Homo sapiens: one gene and its partners. The protein of the gene in region 1 purifies or fractionates together with the protein of each later gene. This does not show direct contact. Each region holds a gene or a part of one and is shown on either strand. Other genes may lie near its edges. The genes, in order: HS2ST1, ERGIC1, ATP12A, GPC1, HEATR1, EPHX4 and ERMP1.

Region 1 (3,992 bases):
TTTAAAGTAAGAACACCATTTAAAGCCATTTTTGACCAGACACGGTGGCTCACGCCTGTAATCCCAGCACTTTGGGAGGCCGAGGCCGGCGGATCATTTGAGGTCAGGAGTTCGAGACCAGCCTCGCCAACATGGTGAAACCCTATCTCTACTAAAAATACAAAAATTAGTCGGGCGGGGTGGCGGGCGCCTGTAATCCCACCTACTCAGGAGGCTAAGGCATGAGAACCGCTTGAACCTGGGAGGCAGAGATTGCAGTAAGCCAAGATCACACCACTGCACTCCAGCCTGGGCAATAGAGTGAGACTCAGTCTCAAAAAAAAAAAAACCAAAGAACAACAGAAAGCCATTTTTGCAGATGCAGGAACAGGCTTAGAGAGGTTATATAACTTGCCCAAGACCACATCGCATTTAAGTGGCAGAGCCAGGATTGCAACCCAGGTATGTATGATTCCAAATCAAGTGCTCCTTTAATTATGTCCGGCTGCTTAAGACTTTATATTGACATTACGCTGAGATTTAGGTATTTGAATAGAGTTTTAAAATTGTAATATCAGTGTTTAATTGCATTTATTGCTAAGAATGAATATCATTCAGAGAAAATTGAATTTCTGATACAAAGGAATTGGTTTAATGTAACGTCTGCCCCTTGTTTAGATTCATGTAATGAACATAATTATGTTACCCAATGAAACAACTGAATTAGATAGCTTATTTTTACTATAGGAAAGAAAAATCTAGCTGTTTTCCATACGTGCAAAATCACAATGTTAAAAAAGCATTTTTATTTTGGCATAAAAAACCTATTAAACATTTTGTCCTTAAAAGTAGTTATTATCATTTTCATTGTAGAAGATTCCAAAGGATAGTATTGTCTGATAGTGGCTTTAATATACCTTGATTTGAGAGTACAGTATTTTGATGGTGAGACTTCTAATAGAGCAATAGATGTATTCAAAACTGAGGTGTACTCATTGACTACTTGGGAAATTCACTAATTAGGAATTCCTAAAAAAAAAAATTCAGTAATACAGCTTTTTATTTTTATTTTTTAAAAAACAAATATGGCATTGTAGTCCACATATTACAATGCGGCTTGCTTTTTTTGCCTTGAATGTTATACACATCTTTCCAGGTCAGTACATATAGATGTGACTTACTCATTCTATTAATAATAGCTGTATAATATTCCAAAGTATGCATGTATCATAAATTATTAAGCCATTATTCTAGTAACGGACATTCAGTTTGTCCCCCATCTGTCGTGTGTGTGCGTGTGTATATATACATATATATATAATTTTTTTGAGTGTTTCTTTTCTTTCTTGGTATTATAAACAATTATAGGAAACATCCTTATGTGTCCGTTTAACTCATGTTGATGTCATTTTGTGCTAGGATGAATTCTGTATGTGAGATTGCTGGGACAAAGAATATACATATTTTATAATTTAACAGATTTAAAAATCTACTTTTCAACATTTTTTTGTTTTTCAAAAGATGTAGTAATCTACACTGCCAGCACACATTCATTAGCACTAGAAGATAATCAGCTTTTAATTTTTGCCAGTGTGAAGCTGTGAAATGATATATTCAATTAATTTACCTTCTAATTTCTAGGTAGGTTGAACATCTTTACATGTTTATTGCCCTTTTATTTGTTACTTTTTTCTATTTTTCTATTGGGTGGTTTACTTTTTTTTTTAAATATTAGAATTAGTAATCCTTTATCTATCCTATGTCTTTTTTAAATTTTTTTTATTTTTATTTATTTATTTATTTATTTATTTTTTTGAGATGAGCCTTGCTGTCACCCAGGCTGGAGTGCAGTGGCACGATTTCGGCTCACTCCTGCCTCAGCCTCCCAAGTAGCGGGGATTGCAGGTACGTGCCACCACGCCCAGGTAATTTTTGTATTTTTAGTAGAGACAGGGTTTCACCATGTTGGCCAGGCTGGTCTTGAACTCCTGACCTCAAGTGATCTGCCCCCCTCTGCCTTCCAAAATGCTGGGATTACAGGCATGAGCCACTGCACCCGGCCTCTTATTTGTTTTTGTCCAAGTTTGCCATTTGTTTCTTGACTTTATGGTGTGTTTTGCTCATATAGAAGTTTTAAAATACACACAGTTAAATCTATCAATTTAGGGAAGTCGTTTTCATATTTTGCTTAGGAAGACTTACCCAGAGCCAGGATTGTGTACATTTTCTGTATTTTATTATAGTATTTTATAGTTTATTACATTTGGCTCTTTAAACCATTTGTATGTTTACAGAGATTTATCATGATTTTCTCAGTAAATCATTTTTTCCAACTGTATGTTAACATTCCTTCTTTTAATCACATACTAAGTTTTCATATGTTCTTGGATCAATTTTGGATGCTATTTTCCATTAATCAGAGATTCTTTAAACCTCGGGGACCCATAAATAGGCTTCAAGGTATCAGTGAATTCCCTGAAATTATATACATAACTTTCATCAGATTTGCAAAGGAGTATGTGATTCCTTTAATGGCAAGGATCACAGATTTATAGTAGATGTTTCATATTTAGTGGACTTTTTTTTGTTTTTAGTAACATAACGTGCAGATTGTGAGTTAAATTTAGGAGATAAGCTTATTACCTGTGAAAAAGAGAAGTTTTTCAACTTCAAATGAAGTTAATACTTCATTGTATTAAAATGTAGACTTAATTTTCTAGTGAGAAATGGAAAAGGACAGGGAATCCAAATGAAAACTATTTAACTGTGACTCGTTACTATAAAATGTCAGAATTTGTGGCTGGTAAAAAGTAGTTCTTCCCGAATTTCAAGAGCGCACTTGTTGCTAATATTGACTGGTCGAACAGTGCAGTGAAATATTTTCTCACATAAGTGATAGAACTATGTGCTTGGTAACTTTATTTTCTATAGGGTTTTAGCATTGTAAATAATATTTGTTGACTGTATTCTTACATCTCTATATGGATTTATGAGCACATTAGGAATAATCTTTTACATGGGGAAAATAATTGAGAATGGATTATGTAATCATCCATTGGTGAGAATTAATGTTAGTCATTATGTTCTTAAAACTCTACTAGACTAAACAACTAATTCCAGGGCCAAGGTTGAGACTGCTTTTTGGAATTTGGTAGTTTTTACAAGTAAGTTCCTGAAACCATGCAGCAATACCTGTAAGATGTTCCAGAGAATGCTAGATTTCCTCACTTCTGAAATCATTTGGAAAACCTCATAGTAGCTACTGTTTTGAGGACTTTGGGTTAATAGGAATACAGTTATTCTAGAATTGGTAATTGGTGCCTCACTTAGTCTTGAATAGGATGTCTAGTGCCATGGAGTAGTCACCTGAAATAGTTGATCTCAATTAAGATAATTCCAGGATGTCTGTCCACCACTCTGGTAGGCCTTCTAATAGCTTTTTGGCACTTAGAGAAATTGAAATAATAATGAATGTTCAAAGATTGCTCTCCAGAAGACCATTTTTGAAGGATGTACTTATAGATGAACTTCATAATCATGGTTCACTATAGCCTAGTTATTTTTAAGATCTACCCACCTACCAGTACCTGTACTTACGTATTCTGCCTTTCTGCCTGTTAACAATAGATGGTAACTGTCAGTGCTCCTGTTCGGTCATTTGTGCACCTGATTCTGTTGCCTCACTTACCTAAAGACATGGTTCCCGAAGCTTTCCCTCATTCTCCTGTCACAATGTATTCTTGAAAATTGCTAAGAGAGTGGATTTTAAGTGTTTTCACCATACCAAAAAAAAAAGTATGTGAGGTAATGCATGTTGTCTTAATTAGCTTGATTTAGCCATCCATGATATATACATGTTTTAAAACATGTTGTACATGATAAATATATACAGTTTTGTCAATTACAAATAAAAAAAAACTATCTTGGTAAATGTTCCAGGTGAACGTGAAAAATATGTATTCTGTTGTTATTGGCTGAAGTATGCTGTAGATGTCGGTTGGTAGTATTGTTAT
Region 2 (3,992 bases), on another chromosome or scaffold:
TGAGAGAGGGAGTTTTAATCTTCATTTTAAATCAAAGGAGAGGGGAGCTCCACTGAGTAGAAGCCCTTTGCTCTGGCCATGCAGTGCATGAGCTGGTGGATCTGGGATTTGAACTTGGGGCTGTTAGCTCCAAAGCCTTAGATCTGGGAGAAAAGGGAGAGATTGGAGGGGCCCACCATCCTGTCAGCTCTTTTAAGAATTGTGGGGAGTGGAGAGGGGTATACCGTGATTAGACCTCCTCCCCCAGTTCAAGGCCAGGGAGAAAACCAGCCGTCCTGCTCGTGTTCCCCTTCTTAAAATCAGAAGCAGGAAAAATAGTGCACTCTTGCCCTTCCCTACGGATACTTCTGATTTTCTTACTGCCTGTAGAGCCTGGTGCAACTGAGTTCTGTGTTTTCCTGTCTGTGAAATGGGAATGAGGAGAGTACTCACCGAAGTAGAACAGTTGAGGGATGAGGCAGTGCGGAAAGCATTTAGACACAGAGTAAGCGCCTCATCCATTTTGGCCGCCATATTTATTTGTGTCATTTTATTTAAGCACCCATCATCTCCTAACACATTATATAATTCACTTAATTATCATGCTGCTTCTCTCTCCCTCCCATTAGTACATGAGCTCCTGAGGGCAAGAAGTTTTTATCAGGCTTCTTCAAGGTTGCATCTCCAGCACCTAGAACTGTGCTTGAGCCAAACTCGATCCTTGGAGATGCCTCTTGAAATCTGTCAAGGAAGCCATAGACATGACGTGACTTGATATGCCAGCTTCAGTGGGCAGATTTTCAGCCATTAGTGGAGAAATCTCCCCTCTCCACCCTTGAATCTGCCGTTCCTAGGTTGTTTTTGGGGTTAAGGAAGGAGGCAGAACGCAGGGGAGGGAGGCTGAGCTTTCAATGATTTATTGTGTTTGCTTTGCTCTTGTTAAATTGTTTCACTAATGGCTGGCTGTTGCAGTTGTGGAACTAGCCTTGTGACCCACATCCGTGTGTGTTGTTTCGAGTTCCGGCTGGCCTGGGGCCAGTAGCACCTGCTGCCTTCTGCACACCAGCCCAGGGTGGGTGAGGAGGGAAGATAACAGCATCCGGAAGCCCTGTGCCCAGGCCCAGTGGTGCCTGAGCACTGCCTTCCGGGAGGTGCAGGTGGCTGCTGTCCCACAGTGACAGCCCCCATGTTGAAAACCCAAGGCCTCGGGGGTGCCGCTGCACTGGCACTGACCAGATGTGCTCTGGGACCATTGACTTCCCCTCTCGGAGCCTCCATTTCTTCATTTTAAGGAGGGGATGTAAACTTCGCTGCCTCACCTGGTAGAGTAGATGTAGGGGCAAGTGTGATCAATGCACACTTGCAGGATCAATGTGCAATGCAACTTGCAATGCAGGATGAGGCCCATAATTTGTGGGGCCCAGTGCAAAATGAAAATGTGGAGTCCCTTGTTGAAAAAGTATTAAGAATTTCAGGACGGCAGCAGCAGCGCATTCAGCCAAGCATGGACCCCCCTCTGAGTGTGTGACCCTGTGTGCCTGCACAGGTCATGCGGCCCTGATGGGGCTGGCCCTGCTGCAGGGCCTTGGTTTGGCCTCTACCATTTTTCACTCTGGCCTTCTGAGTGGTCTTTCTCCCTCCAGGATACCCCAGACCTCCTCAGGACTCCCTAGTGAGCTTTCCAAAGTTGATCTGATATTTTCATGTCCTGATTTCAACCTTCAAATGGGTCTCATTGCTCTAAGGATCCAGTGTGAATTCCTTTTTAAAAAAAAATTATATAGAGATGGGGTCTTGCTATGTTGGCCAGGTTGTTCTTGAACTCCTGGCCTCAAGTCATCCTCCTTCCTTGGCCTCCCAAAGTGCTAAGATCACAGGCATGAGCCACTGCACCTGGCCCAGTCTTAATTCCTTAGGCCCCAATAGGGAATGGGACCCTGGTAGCCCCATCAGTTCCTACACCAAGCTAAGCCTCAGCCACCACAGGGACCTCTGAGCACAGAGTTAACATTCAGCAGAGAGTAGCTAACATGAATGCCTGTATTTCTACCCTGCTGTTTCTTCCAGAAAGAATTCCAAGGAAGCTGACAAGAACATATACTTTACAGCAAGTTTTAAAAAATATAAAATGAGCGCTGTGGCTCATGCCTGTAATCCCAGCACTTTGGGAGGCTGAGGTGGGCGGATTACCTGAGGTCAGGAGTTTGAGACCAGCCTGGCCAACATGGTGAAACCCCGTCTCTAATAAAAATACAAAAATCAGCCGGGCTTGATGGTACATACCTGTAATCCCAGCTCCTCGGGAGGCTGAGGCAGGAGAATTGCTTGAGCCCGGGAGACGGAGGTTGCAGTGAACTGAGATCTTGCCACTGTACTCCAGCCTGGCCAACAGAGCGAGACTCTGTCTCAAAAAAAAAAAAAAAAAAAAGTATATATATATGGGCCAGGTGTGGTAGCTCACACCTGTAATCCCAGTACTTTGGGAGGCCAAAGTGGGAGGATTGCTTGAGGATTGCAGGAGTTCAAGACCAAGCTGGTCAACATAGCAAGACCCCAGACCCCATCTCTATGGGGAAAAAAAAATGGCCAGGTGTGGTGATGTGCGTCTGTGGTCCCAGCTTCTTGGGAGGCTGAGGTGGAAGGATCTCTTGAGCCCAGGAGGTGGAGGCTTCAGTGAGCCATGTTCATGCCATTGCATTCCACACTGGGTAACAGAGCAAGACCCTATCTCAAAACACACACACACATACACACACACACACATACACACACATACACATACACATATAGCCTTAAAAATCAGGGCAAAAAGAAAATAAAAATTAGACCAGAGAGAAAATTATGTGAAAAGGCCAGTATTTCGGGTTTATTGAACATTTGCTAGTGCCAGGCACTGTTGTAAGGATCTTACTGTATCAGCCCCTTTAATTCTCCACAGTCCTACAAGGGAGGTGCTGTTGTTACCCCACTTTACAGGTGAGCCAGTGGAGGTGCCACAGAGTTCGGAAACACGGTCGTTCCCGTTCCTGGAGCTGGGATTGGAACACTGCCATTTGGCACCAGAGCTCCACTGTGTCCTGTAGGCTCATCTCTAAAGCTTTCTCTTTTCCATTCACTAAATTCAGAGAGAACTGAGAACTCTTCTAATTGGATTCATTGGGTTTCTCTTCACTAATCCTCACCCAACAGTGCTCATTAAGAAGCTTAAAGCCATCAACTTTTTTCCCCCTAGCCTCATGTAGCGTGATACCTGATTCTGAAATGGTCTTTAAAGACCCTCACACCAGCTAATGGCATCACCCTCGAGGGGCTCAGTTTTCCCACGCTGACCAGTGGGGGTTTTCCAGCTTAGAGCATCATGTTTACCTGCTCGCGGGGACATGGAATGAGATGGAATGTCCTCTCCTCCCAAGGCCGTTTGGATTCCTGACTGTGGTGCTGTAGTAGCAGGAGACAGGGCTTTAGCCAGCTGTGTCCTGGTTAAGTTACATTCCCCATCTGGTAATCCTTTCGTATTTTATTTGGAGTTACTCCTAGCCAGTTTTTGTCAGGCGTGGGAGAGACAGGCAGGGTGTGAAGAGGGTATTTGGGGTGAGGCTTACCCGGTACATCTAAATCAGTGAGCCTCAACCCTGGCTGTATATTAAAGTCTCTCATGTGATTCTAATGCACAGCCAAGACGGAGGAGAAGTGCTCTGAATTGGGAGAAGCAATAGCAAGCAGGGCTGAGAGCAGCAGGGGAGCCAGGTCGGGTGGCGGTGGAGAGCCTTGCCTCGGGAGGCTGGGGCGTGGAGTTCCCGTCCCACCCATCACTCCTGCATGACCTTCGGCAACTCTGTTACCCCACCAGTGAAGTGGACAGTAAGGGGCCGTAACTTTCTACTAATAACCTTGCTCTTCAAAGTGCAGTCCCAGATGCCAGCTTCAGCAGCACCTTGGAGCTTGTTGGAAGTGGAGAATCTCAGTGCCCACCTGGAATCTGAATTTGTATTTTAACAAGATCCCCAGGTGAT
Region 3 (3,992 bases), on another chromosome or scaffold:
CTATACGGGCCAGCAAATTGGCAAAGCAGTCCAGGTTTATAGGAAGAAATGTGCCACCTATACTGAACAGGAGCACAGGAGGAGGCTAAGGGCAGGACCGTCGTGTGCACGTCACCAGCACATGGCCATCACCAGGCTAAAACTAGACAAAGACCACAAAAGATCCTTGAATGGAAGGCCAAACAAATCTTCCTAAGTAGGGAAGGAAGGGCAAATATAAAAAAGAAGCAATTGAGAAGATGCAGGAATAAGGTATCTTATATACAACTTTCATTAAAAATTGCTAAAATGGGCCAGGCGCAGTGGCTTACGCCTGTAATCTCTACACTCTGGGAAGCCAAGGCGAGCAGAACCCTTGCAGTCAGGAGTTAAAGACCAGCCTGGCCAACATCGTGAAACCCCGTCTCTACTAAAAGTACAAAAACTAGCCGGGTGTGGTGGCACATGCCTGTAACCCCAGCTACTCAGGAGGCTGAGGCAGGAGAATTGCTTGAACCCAGGAGGTGGAGGCTGCAATGAGATTTCACCACTGCACTCCACACTCCAGCCTAGGCAACAGAGAAAGACTCCATCTCAAAAAAAAAAAAATCTGCTAAAATTTTAAATTAAAGTCCCAGCTACTTGGGAGGCTGAGAGGGGAGGATCCCTTGAACCCAGGAGGTGGAGGCTGCAATGAGATTTCACCACTGCACTCCACACTCCAGCCTAGGCAACAGAGAAAGACTCCATCTCAAAAAAAAAAAAATCTGCTAAAATGAAGCTGGGTGCAGTGACACAAGCCTGTAGTCCCAGCTACTTGGGAGGCTGAGAGGGGAGGATCCCTTGAACCCAGGAGGTCGAGGCTGCAGTGAGCTATGATCACACCATTGCACTCCAGCCTGGGTGATCTGACAGGACACCTTGTATCTAAAAAAAGAAGACTCGGCTGGTCTGAAGGTAGTAGTGAATTAGCTCAACTGATTGTTCACAGTCAGTTACAGATCAAACTTCTACTCTTTCCCCTCTTCTCACTACTGCACTTGACTACTCTTAAAAAAATTTCTTTTAGTCCAGGTGTGGTGGCTCACGCCTGTAAGCCCAGCACTTTGGGAGGCTAAGGTGGGTGGATCACTTGAGGTCAGGAGTTTGAGACCAGCCTGGCCAACATGGCAAAGCCCCGTCTCTACTAAAAATACAAAATTAGCCAGGCATGGTGGCGGGCGCCTGTAATCCCAGCTATTCAGGAGGCTGAGGCAGGAGAATCGCTTGAACCCAGGAGGTGGAGATTGCAGTGAGCTGAGATCACACCACTGCATTACAGCGTGGGTGACAGAGAGAGACTCTGTCTAAATAAACAAACAAACAAACAAACAAAATTTGTTTAAAATTCTAAAGTGAAAAAAAGTATAATCCGATTATCTTACAAAACCAAACAAATAAACAAGCCCCAAAGTTGTTTTCATAGAGGGATGTTATGTATACTAAAGGGCACTGCAAGACTCTTAGACTTCAGGTACTGCTGCTGTGCCCAGAGGCGGGAACCCTGGTTGGTTGTCTAACGTGGTAATTTGTTATGACCTGACAGCTGTGTGTCCCTAAAAGACCTAAGTGCTTGGGGAAACTGAAGAGGTGCATTGGTCTTTCCCTCATCTCCCGCATGCGTGAAAACATAACCCAGCTAATGAACATTACTTCTCAACCTGAGAATTCGGAGTCTTTGACTCATGGAGACCAGGCACAGTCCAGGCCACTCTCCTGCATGCCCAGCTCCCTAGCCTTGTGTGGCTCCCTCATTACACTGGCCACATCATTGTTAGCTTTGTTTGTGTCTCCTTGGCTCGATGGAAAGATTCCCCAACGGTGTGGATAGTATTGTTCAGTTTGCTACTGTAGTTCCAGGTCTTGCCTGGTATATAGTTGGCACGCAGTAAATACTTGTTGAAAGAACAAATACATGAGTGAATGTACAGTTGGATGAACATGATTAAAAGAATAAGGATAAACATGATTAAAAGAATTAGGAGAAACAAGGAAAAAAACTTTCCTTAGGAAGCTTCCATTCTATCTATTACCAAATAAAAAAGAAGGGTGTGTTTACATAGCTACACGTTATGAAACCGGGTGGATAAATACCCAAGATGCTTACCAAGGAGGGTGCATGAAACAACCCACAGGGTTCTTACGATTCCAAATTATGCAACTGCATCTATGGCAAGTAATTTCACATAAACCCTTTGTTTCAGTTTTTCTTATTCTAAATTGGGCACATAGGTTTTGTGCCCAGGGCACACTGGATTTTGAAATTTCAAACAAGGAACACATAAAGGGTCATTTCATGGTATCAATACTGTGCCTGGCACATATTAGCTGCTCAGTGAAATTAGAGTGAATACATGGATATGCAAATAATAGCTCAAACAAGCCTAGCATAACTCTGAGAGCAAAAAGCTGATTTGTTCCAAGTAGTGCAGCTCTTTAGAGCCAGTGGGGCCCCATGGGTATAAACTGGAATTTTTACTATGCTGCTCCTGTGCTTACCGTTTGTTAACTTGCTCCACAGCAATGTTGAGGCGATGTGCAATGTCTTCCACTGTTTCACTGTTGGCTGAAATGATCCCCACACTCTTGGCAATAGCTTTGGCTGTGATGGGATGATCACCAGTAACCATAATAACCTAGAGCAAAGACAACGAGAAGGCCCACGGGTAATGAAGAACTCGGTTGGCCAAAGTGGGGATGGTTCAGTAATACCTACTCTGTAGTGCCCTGGGAGAACGTGGTTGGTGATTACAGTGGCAGCTCTGGATCTACGAGACAACTGTCTTTGGAGGAAACACTAATCCCATTGGGTCTACCCTTGCTCCTAAGCTTCATACGCTTCCTCCTCTGACATGAAAGGAAGCCCTTCCCCTTTGATGCCACTTTATTTGTGAAAGGGCTGGTGAGTGTCTACTTGGGGGTAGCCCCATGTTACTTCAACAGTCTTAATATTAACCTAGTAATGATGAACATGGATTATGGGGGCTGAGCCTCAAGACTGAGTAATAAAGCCTTTTTTCTTTCTTTTTTTCTTTTCTTTTCTTTCTTTCTTTTTTTTTTTTTTTTTTTGAGACAGAGTTTCACTCTTGTTGCCCAAGCTGGAGTGCAATGGTGTGATCTCGGCTCACTGCAACCTCTGCCTCCTGGATTCAAGAGATTCTCCTGCCTCAGCCTCCCGAGTAGCTGGGATTACAGGTGTGTGCCACCACATCTGGCTAATTTTTTTGTATTTTTAGTAGAAACGGGGTTTCACCATGTTGGCCATGGCTGGTCTGGAACTCCTGACCTCAGATGATCCGCCTGCCTCAGCTTCCCAAAGTGCTGGGATTTCAGGCATGAGCCACTGCGCCCAGCCAATAAAGCCTTTTAGTATCTACCATGGACTAGGGCGAGATATGGTCACTTCAAGGCACTAGGAGATTCTTCTCATTGCATTTACTGTTTATGTGGTTCATTCCACATAGACACAATCATTTTCTTTTTGTGGGACAGTTTCAGTAACCTTAGCACAGTGAAACTAGAAATAAAATAGGAATTATGATATTTACTTGAAGACACCTAAATACTGACCATCTGCTATGAAAACCATTATTAGAAAGGAACACGACATAAAGAAAGAACTTCTTGAGTCAGGAAAATAACTCCCACCTTGATCCCTGCACTCCGGCATTTGGTGACTGCATCTGGCACGGTGGACCGAGGGGGATCGATCATTGACAAGAGTCCCACAAAACAGAGGTTGGAGGTCGGAAAGTTCATAGCGTCTATGTCAAATGAGTAGGTTTCTGGAAACTCGTCTGCTGGCAGGTAGAGATGACAGAAACCTGTAATACAGATGAATTAGTGAGTCAGTGAAACTAGAATAGGAAACGAAAAAAAATAAGAGGAGAACATGCTCATACACCTTGGTCCTCTGCTGTTTTACCAATACATTAGAATAAGCCAGAATTGTTTAATTTCTTCAACTCCATAAT
Region 4 (3,992 bases), on another chromosome or scaffold:
AGGGCGCTGGGTTGAAGCCCCAGCTGGGATTTGGGGGCTGCCCTCAGGCAGGGATCTGCAGGGTTTGACACCCCCCTGGGAGTGTGCACAGCCCATTCCCAGTGCACATTTGGGGACAGAGGGCCTATCCCATCAGCCCCTCAGAGGCTCCTGTCACCAGCAGATTCTCCTGAGCACCTGCAGGGAGACAGGCCTTGGCCAAATCCTGCCTGCAGCTCGTCAAGTGCCCCAGGCCACTGCCCCTGGGGACCAGGTGGCCTGGAGCCAGGGAGCTCAGTGCAAGGGCTGAGACTGGGGCTGGGGACAGGGCTGCAGAGTGCAGGGCCTGCCTGGGGTGGCCGCCACTCAGCCCTTTATATCGGGGCAGGAGTCTGGGGGCCGCGGGGAGTGACCCCTGCAGGCCTTGAGGCCCCGCCAGCTGCTGCATTAGAGCCACGTACTCCTCGGCCCAGGCTGGGCCTCGCCTTGTGTCTGGGCAGAGAGTGGCAGCCACCCCCAGGGGGACAGTGTGGGGTCAGGAGGTCCTCCATGAAGTGACCTCTGATCAGAAACACGAGGACTTGGTGGAGGGAGGCGGCCCGGGCTGAGGTACTGCCCCTGTGTCCGGGCGGAGCCAGGGCGCCGGGACAGTGAGCCTGGGCAGACAGGAGGGAGGGAGCGCTGAGGCTGCAGGGCTCCATTGTGGCTGTGAGGGACGGCAGCTGCTGCTGGGGCCCTGGGGTTTGTCTCAGCGTTCCTGCTTCTCCGGCTCCTGGACACCTGCTGTGGCCTCCCAGGCTCCCGGGAGAGTCTGCCTGTCCCCAGGAGCCCCCAAGGCCATTTCCACAGGGCTGTGGGACCTCAGCTGTTGGCGTACACCTGGGTAGCAGTGGGTCAGAAGCTCCCTCTCTGTGACTTGGACATCGATGCTCAGAGCTCAGCCCTCCCCGCTGGTGTGGGGCCCGTGGGATGCGCGTGGCCCCTCTGGGACTCTCCTTCCTCCTGCCCAGCTGGACCCGGGGAGCGAGCCCCTGCACCCTGAGTCAGGAGCCTTCCTGAGCCACTTGGTTCTGTCCCATGTGTAGGGACCCGGCTCACCTCCTCCACTCTATCCTGGGCCTCAGTTTCTCCCCAGCGCCGCTGAGCCCTGGCTCCCGCCCCAGCGTGCCACCCAGCCCTGCCCCTTCCCCTCTCCTGCTAATACCCTTGCCCATCACACCATCCTCCTGGCCTGGGGACATCCTGCCCGCCTGCTTCCTCCTGGCTCTTAGGGGGTTGGTGTCGCTGCCCTGCTCTGGGGCCTGTCCCGTGTCAGTGCCCTGCCGCCGCCCTCCCTCTGCTGCCCTCTGGAAGCCTCCAGCCTTCCTGTTCAACTCTCCTATCTTTGACCTGAAAACACAGACACCCTTTGGGGACATTTGTATTAAAAATGACCCACTATGTGATGTGCCCAAGGCCCACCTGTGCCCCTACCCCAGGGAGTCTTGTCCAACCCCCACCTCCTATGTCCTCCCCTCCCACCCCTGCCCATGGCAGCTGCTGTCCCCTCCCAGCCTCCGGGGCAGCTGAGGGCCCCTGGGTCTTTGTCTGCAGTGCTGGTGGGAACCAGTGGGAGGCGGTAGGAGGGGAGCCTGGCTGGACCTCTGGTTGCTGTGTTCAGGGATTTGGAGCCCTGTGTCCGCCCCCCCACCAGCCTTCAGGAGCAGCTGAATGGGTTCTGGCAGGAGGTAGAGCTGGGGACTGCACCTGGATTTGGCCCATGGCCCTCTAGGTGTGTCTGGGCTAATGCATGAACCACAAGCCGCCCCTTTCCGGGACAGGCCAGGGCGTTCCAGGCGCCAGGACCCAAGGTGGACACTGGACAGCTGTGTGGCCCGTCCACCCTCCCCACAGCGGCCTGGGAGCTCTCTGTAGCCCTGCCAGCCCTGAAGCCCCAGGCCTTGCCAGGGGTCAGCGTGGGGGCTGATCCAGAGATCTCAGGCTTGACGGCCCCCGTGCCTCAAAGGAGAGCCTCTGCCCTGCTACCCTGGAGCACCTTGTGGTGGGCCATCGAGCCCCCGGTACCTGTGGGGCAAAGCCGGCCACAGCCCTAGGGACGCTCTGAGCAGTTACAGACCTGGAAGTCCCACTTCCAAATGGGATGGGGAAGTCCAGGGTCCCATCTAGGCCCGGGGTACGGGGGCTTTTCCCTAAAGCCCCTGCAGCACATGTGGAGGTCTGAGGGTGAGCCTGTGCCTCCACACCCCCTGCCCAGCAGGGGAGATGTCTGGGGTTCTAGGCTGCAGGAGGCCCCCCAGAGCCCTCAGACAGGCCCGGGGTGCTCACAGCTGAAGCTTCTAAATCGCAGAAGCTGAGAGAAGACAAGAAGCCTAGGAGAGCAGCCGAGACAGGGTGGCGGGAGGGGCAGCAGCCCTGGAGACTCGCAGGGCAGGCGGCTGGGGCCACGGGGAGCACAAGTGGGGACCAGTGGAGAGAAGGAGCGGCTGGCAGGGGGGCACAGACCGGCCCTGCCCCTCTTACCCCAGTGAGTCCCCATCTCCACCAGCAGCCCCTCCCTGGGTGTTCTCAGGGGGTCACTGAGTCACAGAGCATCTGTTCTGCCCAGGGCTCAGCTCAGAAACTGCCACTGGAGCCCCAGTCAGAGGCCCTGAGACCCGAGAGGACCCCCTGCCACCTGGGCCCCTGCTCCCCAGGCCAGGGGGTGAGGTCTCGGGGCGCCCCATGGATGCCCACAGGGCCCACAGCCGCTGCAGTGTGGCGTCCGACTCCGAGGTCCTCAGAGTGTATCCTCAGAGCTGAGTCTCCCGGGCTGAGTCCCCTGCTCTGGTCCAGCTGCCACGGCGGGGGAAACATGGTCCCGATCACGCCCCCTCCCTGTGCGCAGACCACTTCCAGCACCTGCTGAACGACTCGGAGCGGACGCTGCAGGCCACCTTCCCCGGCGCCTTCGGAGAGCTGTACACGCAGAACGCGAGGGCCTTCCGGGACCTGTACTCAGAGCTGCGCCTGTACTACCGCGGTGCCAACCTGCACCTGGAGGAGACGCTGGCCGAGTTCTGGGCCCGCCTGCTCGAGCGCCTCTTCAAGCAGCTGCACCCCCAGCTGCTGCTGCCTGATGACTACCTGGACTGCCTGGGCAAGCAGGCCGAGGCGCTGCGGCCCTTCGGGGAGGCCCCGAGAGAGCTGCGCCTGCGGGCCACCCGTGCCTTCGTGGCTGCTCGCTCCTTTGTGCAGGGCCTGGGCGTGGCCAGCGACGTGGTCCGGAAAGTGGCTCAGGTGCGCACAGCCACCCAGGGCTCTCAGAAACCCCTCCAGACCCCCATGCTCTGCCCAAGGGACTTCCTCTTCCCCCTACTTTAACCCTGTGCCCCTGGGCCTCTGGGCCAGCCTCTGACCTCAGCCCCACAGCCTCAGTCCCTCCTGCATTGGCTGCTGCCCATGGCCTGCTAACAGCGTACCCACAGATGTGAGCCTTGCTCTGGGCAGGCGGCTCTGGGCTGGCCCATCCCTGCCCAGAACCATCATGGGCCAGGATGGGAAGGGCCAGGGGCTGGGGCTGGACGCTGAGCCAGGCTGTGGAGTGAAAGTGCAGAGGAGACAGAAGAGAACAACATGCGTGGGGGCCGGGCAGGGTGGGGCCCCAGAGCCTCGCAGGCCAGGGGGATGCCTTGGTCCCTTGCGGGGCACGTGTCAGACCCAGCTAAGCTGGGACATAGGGAGGGCGTCAGCCTCAGACCCACATGCCCTGGGTGGGAACTGCCCCCACCTCCAGGCTCCTGGGCAAGTCATGCCTTGGTTTCCTCAGCGGCATGCGGGTGAGGATATTCTTGCCTCCCTGTGACCCTCGAGATCATTAAAATGAGGGCCGTCTGGGCTGGCAGGCCCTGCGAGTCAGGCAGCGACCACCACGAGCTGGGGCAGAGCAGAGGCCTCCCCTGACTTCCCTCCAGAGCCCCCTACCCTGGGGCTTCGTTAGGGGCTGGCCGGGGCCAGGCACCCCCAGGGCCTCGGGG
Region 5 (3,992 bases), about 150 Mb from region 1:
TCTGTGTGTAGTTAAAAAGTGCTAAGCATTTTCCAAACACTAGTACCTCATCATGAAGCCTCTCTGTAAGTGTGTGTTTGTCAGCGAAGATCTGCAGTGGCCCTGATCACTTTTTTTATATTCCTGTAGGTGATTCATCTGGAGAAAATCACTAGTGAAATGGGTTCTGCGTCACAGGCTAATATCCGTCTCACATCTCTTAAAAAGACACTGGCTACCACACTTGCACCCCGAGTCCTGTTGCCCGCCATCAAAAAAACTTACAAGCAGATTGAGAAGAACTGGAAGGTTAGATCTTATTGGGTATTAAGACTTTGGAGAAGGGAGAGGTGGTACTGCAATGTGTAAACTTTGACTTAAAGAAGAAGATTTAGTTTTTAAAAATACACACCGCTGAACTCTAGGAATCATTTGAAAATGGCACATCTCTTTCCTGTGTTATTGGTAGAATCACATGGGTCCGTTTATGAGCATCTTGCAAGAGCATATTGGGGTGATGAAGAAGGAAGAGCTCACCTCCCATCAGTCTCAGCTAACCGCCTTTTTCCTGGAAGCCCTGGACTTCCGAGCCCAGCACTCTGAGGTAAGCTCAGGTTCACTCCTCCAAATCCTAAAGCTGTTATCCACCTATTGAAGAGTCCGAGAACAATCTAGCCGTGTAACAGTGGTACTTGCCAAAATAATTTACAGTCAGGTATCAGCACTCTAATAAATGGGCTCTTCTGTTTTCAGAACGATCTGGAGGAAGTTGGAAAAACGGAAAATTGTATCATTGACTGTCTAGTAGCCATGGTTGTCAAACTTTCCGAGGTCACATTCAGGCCCCTGTTCTTCAAGGTGACGCTTTCTTCCTCTTCCTCTCTTTTGTGCTCAGATTTAAGTGACAAGATGTCGAAGAAACTAATACTGTCTTATCCTTTCAGCTGTTTGATTGGGCTAAAACAGAAGATGCCCCAAAGGACAGGTTGTTGACATTTTACAACTTGGCAGATTGCATTGCTGAAAAGCTGAAAGGGCTTTTTACTCTGTTTGCCGGCCACTTAGTGAAGCCTTTTGCTGACACCTTGAACCAGGTGAACATCTCCAAAACAGGTGGGTGGTCGCTTCAGTTCAGCTGTCACCCTTGCCCTGTGTGCCTTATACAAGGTACCAGTAAGACACAACCTAGTGCTTGGAAGCAAGATTTTAGAGGTTCTTAAGTCCTAAGCTAAGGAGGGTGAATTTTTTACTTCATTGTTGTCAGACAGTGAAGTGTTGTTTTAGCATCATGAGCGAATGTTATAAGTCACCTCACTTGGGAGAAAGAATAAAGTAAATGGCCGTTACTGTCAGTTACTGGAAGTAACTTTAAAACGCAAAAATTAAGATTAGTTTATTCTCTAATGCTAATACGTGACCCACTTGACAGTTGAGGGAATTTAACTTGCCAGAGTGAGTGTTAGAATCTTAACTCTAAAAGAAGGAATCATTCTTCGAGAGACCATCCATTGTGTTCTGCCTTCGTCCTGATTATGATTTCTAGATCATTTTAGACTCTTCTGATTTAGTTATTTTAATAGTGATTTCAATGTAAACATTGGAGATTAAATGGTTAAGTTCAGTGTTTTTTCATTTTTACTCTTCCCACGTCTACAGATGAAGCATTTTTTGACTCTGAAAATGACCCTGAAAAGTGCTGCTTGCTGTTGCAGTTTATTTTGAACTGTTTATACAAAATCTTCCTTTTTGATACCCAGCATTTTATAAGTAAAGAGAGAGCAGAAGCCTTGATGATGCCTCTGGTGGATCAGGTAACCAAACAGAATCATCTTTCGTTGCTGAGGAAGCCATCACTGTTCGAGCTTGGCAGGTTTTAGATCTGCTCAAATGACAGCTTGCTAGGATTTTTCTTTGTAAGGTTGTTTTTTCTGGTCTTTTTAATGAAATGTTTTATTTGAAAATTGTTTTTTCAAAGATATAACTTCATTGTGGAATTTGAGTTTTGTTTTGTTGTTTTGAGACAGGGTCTTGCTCTGTCACCCAGGCTGGAGTGCAGTGGTGCAATCTCGGCTCGCTGCAACCTCCACCTCCCGGTTTCAAGCAATTCTTGTGCCTCAGCCTCCCGAATAGCTGGGATCACAGGCGCCCGCCTCCACACCTGGCTAATTTTTGTATTTTTAGTAGGGATGAGGTTTTGCCATGTTGGCCAGGCTGGTCTCGAACTCCTGACCTCAAGTGATCCACCCACCTTGGCCTCCCAAACTGCTGGGATTACAGGCGTGAGCCACCATGCCTGGCCCTGAGTTATTTTTTATTTTTTATTTTTTAAACTGCTCAAAAGACAGACATGATATAAGCTGTCATGGTTAATGTATTCATTTGTTTTAACTGGGCCTCACTGAGAACGCGTCAGAGCATGGCTGTCCTCTGGAGCAAAGAGCTCCTCTGAGATGTTCTGCTGGAGAGAAAGGGGCGATGATAAAGGGTATGAGATTCCATTTGAGTTCTAGAAGGCAATACATTTGCCCTAGAGAGTATTAGAATAATGCCTGGTTTTTGAACCTGCTAATATCATGAAAGATAGTAAAATATTTGTATGTTGGATATTTTTTCAAACAGAAGAAAGAAATGAGACTTGTTGTTCAAAGTCTTTGTCTTACTCTTCCTAGCTGGAAAACAGGCTTGGGGGAGAAGAGAAATTCCAGGAACGGGTGACAAAGCACCTGATACCATGCATCGCACAGTTTTCGGTGGCCATGGCGGATGACTCTCTTTGGAAACCACTGAACTACCAGATTCTGCTAAAGACGAGAGACTCCTCGCCTAAGGTTAGGAACTGCGTGACAAGTACTGAAACTGCATCTTTTCACTGCATAGCCTAAACAGCCTGCAGGTGGTCACAGATGTAGGCCCCCTAGTAAACTGGCAGGGAAGAACATTGCTATTTGTCATCCAGTACTAGAGGTCCGGTCTTTTGTATTAGGCAGAAATTTGTGCCTAAGAAAATTTTGTTTTTTACTTACAGGCTATTTGTAAAGAATAGCAATGCCCTATCCCCACCCCAATGGTGCGTTGGGCAGAAGTACTAAAATACTTTCTAAATACTTTTAAATAACAAAGATTTGAAGTAATTCCTTCTTTTTTAAGTGCCATTGAAATGTCATTGTGCTCCAGAGAGAAATGCATTGAATTTATCCACACTATAGTCTTTTGAGTTAGAGCAATACATTCTGTTGTTTATAGATACTAGGCTTATGATCTTGTTGAGTAAGTGGTGGCAGTGGAAATAAAACATGGGTAGGTTGAGTGGAAGTCAAAATTTGACACCCAAGTGTTACGAATTTCAAACTGTTTTAGCAATGAGTCACCATTTCTCAAACTAATGATTGTATTAGAACTTTACTGGCTATAACAGACCAAAGCAGAATTTTATTAATAGGATTTATTAGTTCAAATTCTTTATTAGGATATGCTAACAATGAGACTATTATGATGAACCCCCACATTTTAAACCATAGGTTTTTATACAAGTAGCAGTATCAAATTTATTGTAATATTTTACTTTGCACAAATCAAGGAAATCCTGATTGAATCTAGGTAGTTACAAATGGTTTTTTAATAATTCACTTTGTACTGTCCAGATATTCTTTAATTAAAATATCCAAAATTAGAAGACCAGTAGGGCTTTTGTTTCAAAAGCTAACAATACCCAACTACTGCTTGCTTTCCTTATTATAGACAAGGCATGTGAGGAACACCTAGACGTTTTTAAAGCCCCAAAACTAGGATATTGTGACACAGAATGTTTTTTATTCAGTGCTGAGATGGGAGTTTATCCCAAGCGACTGTCCTGGCCCCTCATACAATTATAGTGGTGACCAGTCAGGGGCTGTGGGTGAGGAGACCTGCCAGAGGTGGCTGGAGGCACTTTATTGCCAGCCTGGCGGGCTGGCGAGCGCCAATGAAGTAAAATCTGGTGACACACTTGAGTTTGCATGCGGCATTTTATTTTA
Region 6 (4,636 bases), 5.1 Mb from region 1:
ATTGTAACAGTATTAAGAGGTGGGACCTTTAAGAGGTGGTTAGGTCATGCAGGCTCTGCCCTCATGGATGGAAATAATGCCACTATGAAAGGGCAATTTCGGCCCCCTTTTGCTTCTTTGCCCTTCCTCCTCTGCCATGTGATGTTGCAGCAAGGAGGCCCTTGTCAGATGTTGGCACCTTGATCCTGAACTTCCCAGCCTCCAGAACTCTGAGAAAATCATTTATGTTCATTTTAAGTTACCCAGACTGTGATATTCTGTTACAGCAGCACAAAATGAACTGAGAAAATAAGCCAAGTTTTAATGTAACAATAAATGTTAGTTGGTAAGCTTACCAGAATTCTGGAAATCCATGAAGCAGCAGCATAAGTGGTTTGCCTCTTTCTCCAGCAGCAACATAGTGAAATCTTAACCCTGAATCCTGAAAGTAGAGGGCATGGAATTTTAGTGATGTTTGTGTTGATTGACAAAGCAATATATTTAGCATTTCCATTTCATTAAAAAAATAGTAACTTGCCTTATTTTAAAACATTTGTGTATTTACAATATCTTCATGACACTCAGTTGCCTTATTTTTAACATCAAGAAATATATTTACTTTTATTAATTTTCAAAAAGAAAAGCAAACCCCATGACCTATTAATAGGGTAAATTGACAGATTCACTTTGTCAACACTCCCTTGACAGTACCTTCTCTTCTTGTTCTAGTACAGTCAATTTATATATTATGAGCTTCTGAAGCAATGTCACAATTTGTAACTTTCATCTTACCATTTGTAACTTTCATCTTACTGATGTGTCACATTTCATCTCCCTCAAATGCTGCAGGACATGTAAATAATTCTAATCTGAATTTATATTTCTGCCATGTTTACATCCTAGTCATCTACTTTTCTCAGCTTGCCCGTCAAGAGCTGTGCCATCAGTTATATAATTCACACCTCCTTCTCTTATTTTTAGGTCTCTCCTTCCCACATTATTATTTTGAGTGTTGCATGTTCTGTTCCCCTTGCTGCCTGCTCATGTCATGTCAGTGTGCGTTTCTAATAAGAGAATGCCCTGAGTGCTCAAGACTTCACTCTGCATGTAGGAGACAAGAAAACCCAAGGAAAATTAAAAAAACATGGGAATGAGTCAGGAATTCAAGCAAATACTAAGCAGGCTGAATTGAGGAAAGTAGAGGGAACAGCAGGAATAAAAATCTCTGAAAGCAAGCAAGCTAGGAAACAAAAAGAACCAAAAGCTAAACACAGACATTGGGTTTTTATAGCAGGCAACTCAAGCAACTGAGTTTTCAGATGTGAAAGAATCATTTTGCAGATTCAGAAGATGAGGCCCAAAGATGGTAACATGAGTCATAAAATGGTTGAGAGCAGGGCTGTGACCAGAATCTCCATCTTGTCCTAACTCCCAGGACAATGCTCTTTCCACTCGGTTCTCTGTCTCTGGGGAAGCTCTTTAGGCGGCCAGAGCGAGGGGAAAAGTGTTTTATGGAATTCCAGATGGTTCTTATACTACTTTTACCCCTCAGGTTGAACAGAGATAACAAATCTGACTTTACCCTCAGCTGCACGATGGCTTCCTAGAGGTTCAATAACTTTTTTTATTGGTGGTGAGTCTTGGAGGATTAAATGTTATGGGCACTGCAATGGATTTAATTAACAGATACTTTATTGCACTGACTATGCATCAGGCATTGTTCTAAGTTTTTCGTGTTTGTTTTTATAAATATTAACCTATTTAATTCTCATGTCGACCCCAGGCAAGAAAGAAGTTCTCTTGCCCTTCTGAACTTCAGCTGCGGGGCAATTTAGCTCCTAACAGGAAATAAGGACTTGGTGACATAAACATCCCCTCTTATGAGGCTGGGTTTGAAAGGCCTGTGAGTCAGACTGCAGGGTGTATCACGGGAACTATTTCCCTTCACCACCTGGAGCCTCAGGAAACAGAATATTTGTGGGCTGTGAGGAAGCTTGAACAATTAGCGTCTGCAGGCATGGCTGGATTTACCTTTTATTCCATTCCTTTCTTTGGTCCCTGACTTCATAAGTATGCATTCCTCCCCACAACACACACAATTTACTTATTGTTTCATGCAACCTAAGTCGTCTGTGATCATAATAAACTCATGACTCCCAAAGACTGACTGTTTACTCTTATTATCTCTAAAATTGGGCAAGAACAGCCTCCTGAGACATTAGGATGCCACGAGGAACAATTCTCTACAGCTGATCTGAGCTCTAAAGGGCAAAAGGGTGACAGGAGACAGCTTCCCCTTGCAGTAGGAAAAAGAGCAGGTTTATTCTGGGTTGTTGTGGCGCCGGGGGGCAGTAATATAAGAGGCCCCTGATTAGAGAAGTTCCACATTCAGAAACCAATCAAGGTGCCTGCAAAGACCGAGTGCTGTTTATCTGTATCTCTCTCTCTCTCTCTCTCTCTCACACACACACACACACACACACACACACGACACACAGGGACCCAACCCCTCCTCCCCTCCTGCCAGGACACTAGGGGACGCTGAGCCAGCGTCTCGGAAGGAGAAGCCCGGAGCCCCCCACCCTCGCGGCGGTCACGCTCCCTCCCGCTCCCGCCAGGCCCGCGCGGCCCTTCACCTTGATCCGCACGTAGCAGTGGGTGCCCAAGGAGGGGTCGCTCAGGCACGCGGGAGGGTGCTCCCGGGCGGGCCGCCGGAAGGTCTGCGCCGGCCCCTTGCCGAGGCTCCACAAAAGTTTGAGCAGGTGGATGGAGGCGCAGAGCCCGCAGTAGCAGTAGACCAGGGACCAGAAGAGCAGGGACCGGAGCGTGAGCATCAGGCGGGGCAGGCAATCCCGCAGCCTCGCCATTGGGAGGCGGCGGCGGGGCCCACTGCCCTTCCTCGGGAGCGGGTGAGCGAGCGCCGCAGCGCGCCAGGCCAGCCCGCCGTCGCCTCTCGACGCGCGCCTCCCCCGGCCCGGGGCGGCCGGCGTTCCGTGTCACCGCGGCGGCTCCGCACACGCGCCGCGCCCAGCCCGGAGCGCGCAGGGGAGAGCCGGGCCTGCGGGGTGCGGCGGGCCAGGCCGGGGTGCAGAGCTTGGCTGTCTTCCGCGGAGAGCGAGATCCCGTTTCAAAATCGCAAAACTGTGGGGGAGGATGAAGGCGAGACTTTCCCAAACCATCCTGGGCACCAAAGAAGGTAGCGCCACTCAGTCTTCTTTGTTGTTCTCAATGTATCAAGCAAAACTATTTCTAAGCCCACATATTCGTGTGTCATAGTTCAGGGACACAGGTCAGCGACAAACTTCCATGCTATTACACCCAAAGAGATTCTTTAGAGTGCAAAATCACTCTGCACTCTGAAAGATACCAGCCTTCCTCTTCTCAAAATCTTTCGTGGAATCATAATTTCTGTAGAAATCCGCCTATGCCTTGCCTGGTTCAGCCACAGCAAACTTACAGAGAGCTGCAACCCCAGGGATACAACGAATGCTTCAACAACGTGACGCGGCAGAAGCCTGGCCAGAAGGCCACACACCTGAGAGTTCGTCGAAGGGCTGGAAGCCGTGAGAGTGACAGTCCTCGGTAGGTATCTCAGCCTCAGCACCGACATGGCCACTCTTGTCCTGACCTCTTCTATCGTCCAGTTCACTGTTAGAATTTCATTAAGCCTTTTCCCAATCACCGGGTCAGGTATTAAGTGTTCATTTTTTATGAGAAACTGTCAAACTGGTTTCCAAAGTGGCTGTACAATTTTGAATTTACTTCAGCATGTGTGAGTTATACAATTGACCTTTGAACAATGCGGGGGGTTAGGGTTGCTGAACCCTTTCACATCTGAAAATCCATGTATAACTTTTGAGTTCCCCCAAACTTAAGTACTAATAGCCTACTACTGACCAAAACAATTAACATATGTTTATGTATTACATACTGTATCTTTATAATTAAGAAAAATGTTAAAATCATAAGGAAGAGAAAATACATTTACTATTCATTAAGTGGAAGTGGATTATCTTAAGAGTGTTCATCCTTGTCATCATCAGGTTAGGTAAGCTGAGGAGGAGAAAGAAGAAGGGAGGTTGATCTTCCTGTCTTGGGGTGAGGGGGAGGGAAGAGGTGGAAGAAAATCCATGTGTAAGTGGACCTACACAGTTCAAACACATGTTGTTTGAGGGTTAACTGTATTTTGCTCTTTTTTTCTAGGGTCTTGAGTTAGGAACTTATTGAGACCTTTGCAATTTCTAATGCAATCATTTAGCACCTATACATTTCTCTCAGTACTCTTTTTATTTTATTTTTTGAGACGGAGTCTCACTCTGTCGCCTAGACTGGAGTGCAATGGCGCGATCTCCATCTCAGCTCACTGCAAGCTCCGCCTCCCGGGTTCACGCCATTTTCCTGCCTCAGCCTCCTGAGTAGCTGGGACTACAGGCGCCCGCCACCATGCCCGGCTAAGTTTTTTGTATTTTTGGTAGAGACGGGGTTTCACCGTGTTAGCCAGGTTAGCTCGTGAACCGCCCGCCTCAGCCTCCCTAAGTGCTGGGATTACAAGTGTGAGCCACCGCGCCTGGCATCTCTCAGTACTCTTTAATCGTATTACATATGTGTTGATATGTTGTATTTTGCCATTTGTTATGTATTTTTTAAAATGTCCTGT
Region 7 (3,992 bases), on another chromosome or scaffold:
TAATTCTAAATGGAAAGGGATGTCAGCTAACCACCTAGCCCTTATAGATACTGTCCTCTTAACTTTCCTTCCCTTTCTTAAAGATATTTGACTCTTCTGTAGTTCTCTTTTAACGCACCAGAACCATTAAAATAAGGGAAGCTGAATGGACAGTTTAACTTTTTAATCAACCCTGTATAGATACCTTTCAATTTCCCTTTCTCTCTTTTTGAATAAAGAAACATTTTATTGTTTGCTCTCTATTTTAAAGTAACTCACAGTGTCAAATTAAAAAGAGAGTTTATTTCATTAGGTTTTTGGAAGGTGACACATTTTGCTAATAGCAGCATTTTCTATTTGATAGTAATTAAATGATTATTACTTTGTTTCACTTCGATTGAAATACAAACCAGTAATCACCACCAAGACAAGTATGGTTAATAGGTAATTTCTTCTTAAGTAGGAATGGGGTCTGGAATTTAACAGAGCCCAAACAAGCATTTTAATTTTAGCTAGCTACAGAGCCTTCCTCAGATTTGCAAAGAGAGGGAAAAATGAACATTGAATACCTACCAGGTGCTAGGCACTGGGCATTATCTTGTGTGACTCTTAAACCTGTGAGGTAGGTATCATTAGCTTGCTCTTTCAACCAGGAAATAGTGGAGTAAAGTGACAGAGCTCAAATTTACTTCCAAATCTTTCTTGCTCTCAAATCCACGCCAAACTCTTTGGCACCCTGCTTCAAATGTGTAAACCCAGAAATGTTACTGCCTGAGTTACGTTAGTGCTTATTTACTTTGATTACTCTTTAAGTTTTCTGATATGGAAAGTTTCAAATATATTCAAAAGCAGAATTGTTTAATGAACCCCAGTGTACTTATCTCCCAGCTTCAGCAGTCTGATCTTGTTTCTTTCCTACCACTACCCTCCCAACTTCTTGATTATTTTGAAGCAGATCTTAGCTATATCAGTTCCTCTCTAAAAGTATTTCACTCTGTGTTGCTGGCAGATAAGGGCCCTTTTTGATACCACCAATTGCCTCACCTAAAAAAACCTAACAGTAATTCCTTGGTATCATCAAATATCCAATCAATTCCTTTAATTGTCTCTTACAATGCTTTAAAAAAGCAAGACAGTTAAGTCATCTTTATAGTTACTTTTAATTAACATACAAAATTTCTGAATCAAGAAGAGGTTCAGAGATTCAACTGAGTGTGTGTTCTGGGACCTAGGATACTACTTAGGTCATTAGTCTCCTTTCCTGTGACTTACTAGATTAGGTATCTTCTTTTTAGTTTTCCATCACATAATCCCCTTGGAGAAGCCTTAAAGGAATGTTACACCATCCAAAGTGACCTCTCTGTGCAGCTTTTATGATTTTGGCAGGAAAACAAGCAAGAAAGGAGTGGGTGCAGTGGGAGATGATGCAGGAAGCTGTGAGCACCAGAAGTGAGACTATTACAGAGGATGTGGAATACGGGTAAAGAATAGAACAGATTGCCTTGGTTTGCTGAGAATACCAGTTTCCAGTATGACTTTAGGTCCCCTCAGGTTACTTCATTTAGCAGACACTAATTGAGTGACTCTGGTGGGTCAGGCATGGTAGTAGGCATTGAGAGTAAGTCAGTGAGCAAACCAGACAAAGATCCCTTCATGGAACTTACTGCTGGTGGGTGTGATTGTCACCTGATGATGACAGAGCTATGCTTCTGGTCATGCAGCTATTGTGATGCTTCTCTGAGGAGAAAGCTCCATTCCTAGTCCTAATGGGTCATATTGTAAACATTTTAAAATCTGAGCAGCAAATTTGTTTTTCTGATTTGAAGGTGCCAGTGATGATGCAGTTAGCTGCTCAGTGATGCTGGAAGTCCTTCGCGTCTTGTCAACATCTTCAGAAGCCTTGCATCATGCTGTCATATTTCTCTTTAATGGTGCTGAGGAAAATGTCTTGCAAGTGAGATTTTACTGTTTTAAATATCAGGCTTGAATAAGGATGAGATTAATAATAATAGCTAAATATTATTTACTAAATAGTAAATGCATTTTTTATGACTCCTGTGGGTAGTATAAAATAATATGCAGAAAAATACTTTATGAGCAGTACTTTAACAAATTCACAACCACTTATGTAGAGATGTTTAATATTTGGAAAACTCCACTTAGCAGATTATTGTGGCAGGATTTGATTGAGAGAAGGGCTCTCGCTGGCATAATTACTCTCCTCAGGTTTTCTTTGACATTGAAGTTTCAGAGATGTTTTGAGACAGGCACAAATAAATGCCCAGCCATATGGATCGTCTCTTCTCCTGTTCTCTTTTTTTTCTTTCTTTTTAAAAAGAGAAGGGGGCCAGGCACGCTGGCTCATGCCTATAATCCCAGCACTTTGGGAGGCCGAGGCAGGCAGATCACGAGGTCAGGAGTTTGAGACCAGCCTGGCCAACATGGTGAAACCCCGTCTCTACTAAAATTACAAAAATTAGCCAGGCGTGGTGGTGGGTGCCTGTAATCCCAGCTATTCGGGAGGTTGAGGCAGGAGAATCGTTTGAACCTGGAACGTGGAGATTGCGGTGATCCGAGATCGAGCCATTGCACTCCAGCCTGGGCCACAGGCTCTGTTTCAAAAATGAGCAAACAAAAAAAGAGGGAGTCTCGCTATGTTGCCCAGGCTGGTCTCGAACTCCTGAGCTCGGGTGATCTTCCCACCATGGCCTCCCAAAGTTTTGGGATTACAGGTGTGAGCCACCGTGCCTGGCCCTCTTTGCCTTTTCTTTTGCACAGCCTTGTACTTACCAGGGATGTTGTTTGGCACCGCTGATGGTCACCAGGCTGCCTTCTGTGATAGGTGACTTTCCGAACCTGATGTGCATGGCCATTATGCATAGGAAAAGAAGCAGAAGATGTCTTTGGATACTGCCTTTGAAGAGCGATTATTTTGTTTTCATATTCCTTACCTCATCAAAGTAGTCTCTCTGTGTTTAAGCAAAATCAAGACTGATAATTTAAGATTGTTTAACAAATATTTGTTTTCTTTCCTTCTCTTTAAGGCCAGTCATGGTTTCATTACTCAGCACCCCTGGGCTAGCTTGATTCGTGCATTCATTAACCTAGAGGCAGCAGGTGTAGGAGGGAAAGAACTTGTATTCCAAACAGGTATGTGAGATTGTGCGTTGTATATTTTAATGCAATTCTAGTTTTTGTAAAAGTAGAAAGTTTTTGATTATAAATAATATCTTCAATAAACAGTCTCTTGAATGAGCATTCTTTTTAAAGCATGAGGTGGTGTTAGCTTGTCTTTGTTAAAAATTTTGAACCAAATAATGCAGCATCTAACACTTGTATAGTGCTTATTATATGCCAAGTGTTGTTCAAACCATTTCATATATATTAAGTCATTGAATCCTCCAAACAACATGTAAGATAAGTACTGTTACTTCCATTTTAGAGATGAAACTGAGTCCAGAGAGATTATAACTTGCCTAAGGTTTCACAGTTGTTTAATGGCAGAGTGTGATTTGAACCTAGACAGTCCGGGTCCAGAAACTTTGTTCTTAACCTCTAATTGGATTGTTATATAGGTAGTGAACTTTTAGCCACTGTGGGTGGTTATGATATAAATATTGTTAAATGTCAATCATTTCATGAGTTAAAATGAGAAAATTTACCTGTAGTGTATGTAACAGGTTTAAATTTATCATTGATTTAGTGGAATGTTAAAAAAATTTAGTAATATTTAATCAGCCAGAATAATTTTTATTTTATTGTTTTTTTAGAGACAGAGCCATGCTCTGTCACCCAGGCTCGAGTGCACTGGTGCCATCATGCAGCCTTGACCTCCTGGGTTCAAGTGGTTCTCCTGTCTCAGTTTCCTGAGTTGCTGGGACTGCAGGTGCTTGCTATCACGCCTGGCTATTTAAAAATTTTTTTGTAGAGACAGGCTCCCATTATGTTTCCCAGGCTGGTCTCAAACTCCTGGGCTCAAGTGGTCCTCCTGCCTTGGCCTCCCAAAGTGCTGG

The links.
Region 2: the proteins of HS2ST1 (region 1) and ERGIC1 purify together in Homo sapiens (affinity purification with mass spectrometry; one large-scale study listed by BioGRID and IntAct). This does not show direct contact.
Region 3: the proteins of HS2ST1 (region 1) and ATP12A purify together in Homo sapiens (affinity purification with mass spectrometry; 3 studies listed by BioGRID and IntAct, with this or other methods). This does not show direct contact.
Region 4: the proteins of HS2ST1 (region 1) and GPC1 purify together in Homo sapiens (co-immunoprecipitation; one large-scale study listed by IntAct). This does not show direct contact.
Region 5: the proteins of HS2ST1 (region 1) and HEATR1 purify together in Homo sapiens (affinity purification with mass spectrometry; one large-scale study listed by BioGRID and IntAct). This does not show direct contact.
Region 6: the proteins of HS2ST1 (region 1) and EPHX4 purify together in Homo sapiens (affinity purification with mass spectrometry; one large-scale study listed by BioGRID and IntAct). This does not show direct contact.
Region 7: the proteins of HS2ST1 (region 1) and ERMP1 purify together in Homo sapiens (affinity purification with mass spectrometry; one large-scale study listed by BioGRID and IntAct). This does not show direct contact.

What each region holds. Positions count from the first base shown.
Region 1 is NC_000001.11:86,917,204-86,921,195, forward strand, and holds part of HS2ST1 (heparan sulfate 2-O-sulfotransferase 1), read left to right. Parts: intron 1-3,992. UniProt on the Homo sapiens protein: Catalyzes the transfer of a sulfo group from 3'-phospho-5'-adenylyl sulfate (PAPS) to the 2-OH position of iduronic acid (IdoA) or glucuronic acid (GlcA) within the heparan sulfate (HS) chain and participates in HS biosynthesis.
Region 2 is NC_000005.10:172,836,854-172,840,845, forward strand, and holds part of ERGIC1 (endoplasmic reticulum-Golgi intermediate compartment protein 1), read left to right. Parts: intron 1-496; exon of another isoform or gene 497-720; intron 721-3,345; exon of another isoform or gene 3,346-3,992. UniProt on the Homo sapiens protein: Possible role in transport between endoplasmic reticulum and Golgi.
Region 3 is NC_000013.11:24,700,597-24,704,588, reverse strand, and holds part of ATP12A (potassium-transporting ATPase alpha chain 2), read right to left. Parts: intron 3,843-3,992; coding exon 3,667-3,842; intron 2,655-3,666; coding exon 2,518-2,654; intron 1-2,517. UniProt on the Homo sapiens protein: The catalytic subunit of a H(+)/K(+) ATPase and/or Na(+)/K(+) ATPase pump which transports K(+) ions in exchange for Na(+) and/or H(+) ions across the apical membrane of epithelial cells.
Region 4 is NC_000002.12:240,459,328-240,463,319, forward strand, and holds part of GPC1 (glypican-1 precursor), read left to right. Parts: intron 1-2,863; coding exon 2,864-3,255; intron 3,256-3,992. UniProt on the Homo sapiens protein: Cell surface proteoglycan that bears heparan sulfate. Binds, via the heparan sulfate side chains, alpha-4 (V) collagen and participates in Schwann cell myelination.
Region 5 is NC_000001.11:236,552,396-236,556,387, reverse strand, and holds part of HEATR1 (HEAT repeat-containing protein 1), read left to right. Parts: intron 1-129; coding exon 130-288; intron 289-448; coding exon 449-583; intron 584-732; coding exon 733-837; intron 838-923; coding exon 924-1,092; intron 1,093-1,635; coding exon 1,636-1,790; intron 1,791-2,648; coding exon 2,649-2,807; intron 2,808-3,406; exon of another isoform or gene 3,407-3,992. UniProt on the Homo sapiens protein: Ribosome biogenesis factor; required for recruitment of Myc to nucleoli. Involved in nucleolar processing of pre-18S ribosomal RNA. Required for optimal pre-ribosomal RNA transcription by RNA polymerase I.
Region 6 is NC_000001.11:92,028,290-92,032,925, reverse strand, and holds the start of EPHX4 (epoxide hydrolase 4), read right to left. Parts: upstream 2,942-4,636; 5' UTR 2,847-2,941; coding exon 2,616-2,846; exon of another isoform or gene 2,539-2,615; intron 422-2,538; coding exon 336-421; intron 1-335.
Region 7 is NC_000009.12:5,823,033-5,827,024, reverse strand, and holds part of ERMP1 (endoplasmic reticulum metallopeptidase 1), read left to right. Parts: intron 1-1,805; coding exon 1,806-1,933; intron 1,934-3,023; coding exon 3,024-3,129; intron 3,130-3,992. UniProt on the Homo sapiens protein: Within the ovary, required for the organization of somatic cells and oocytes into discrete follicular structures.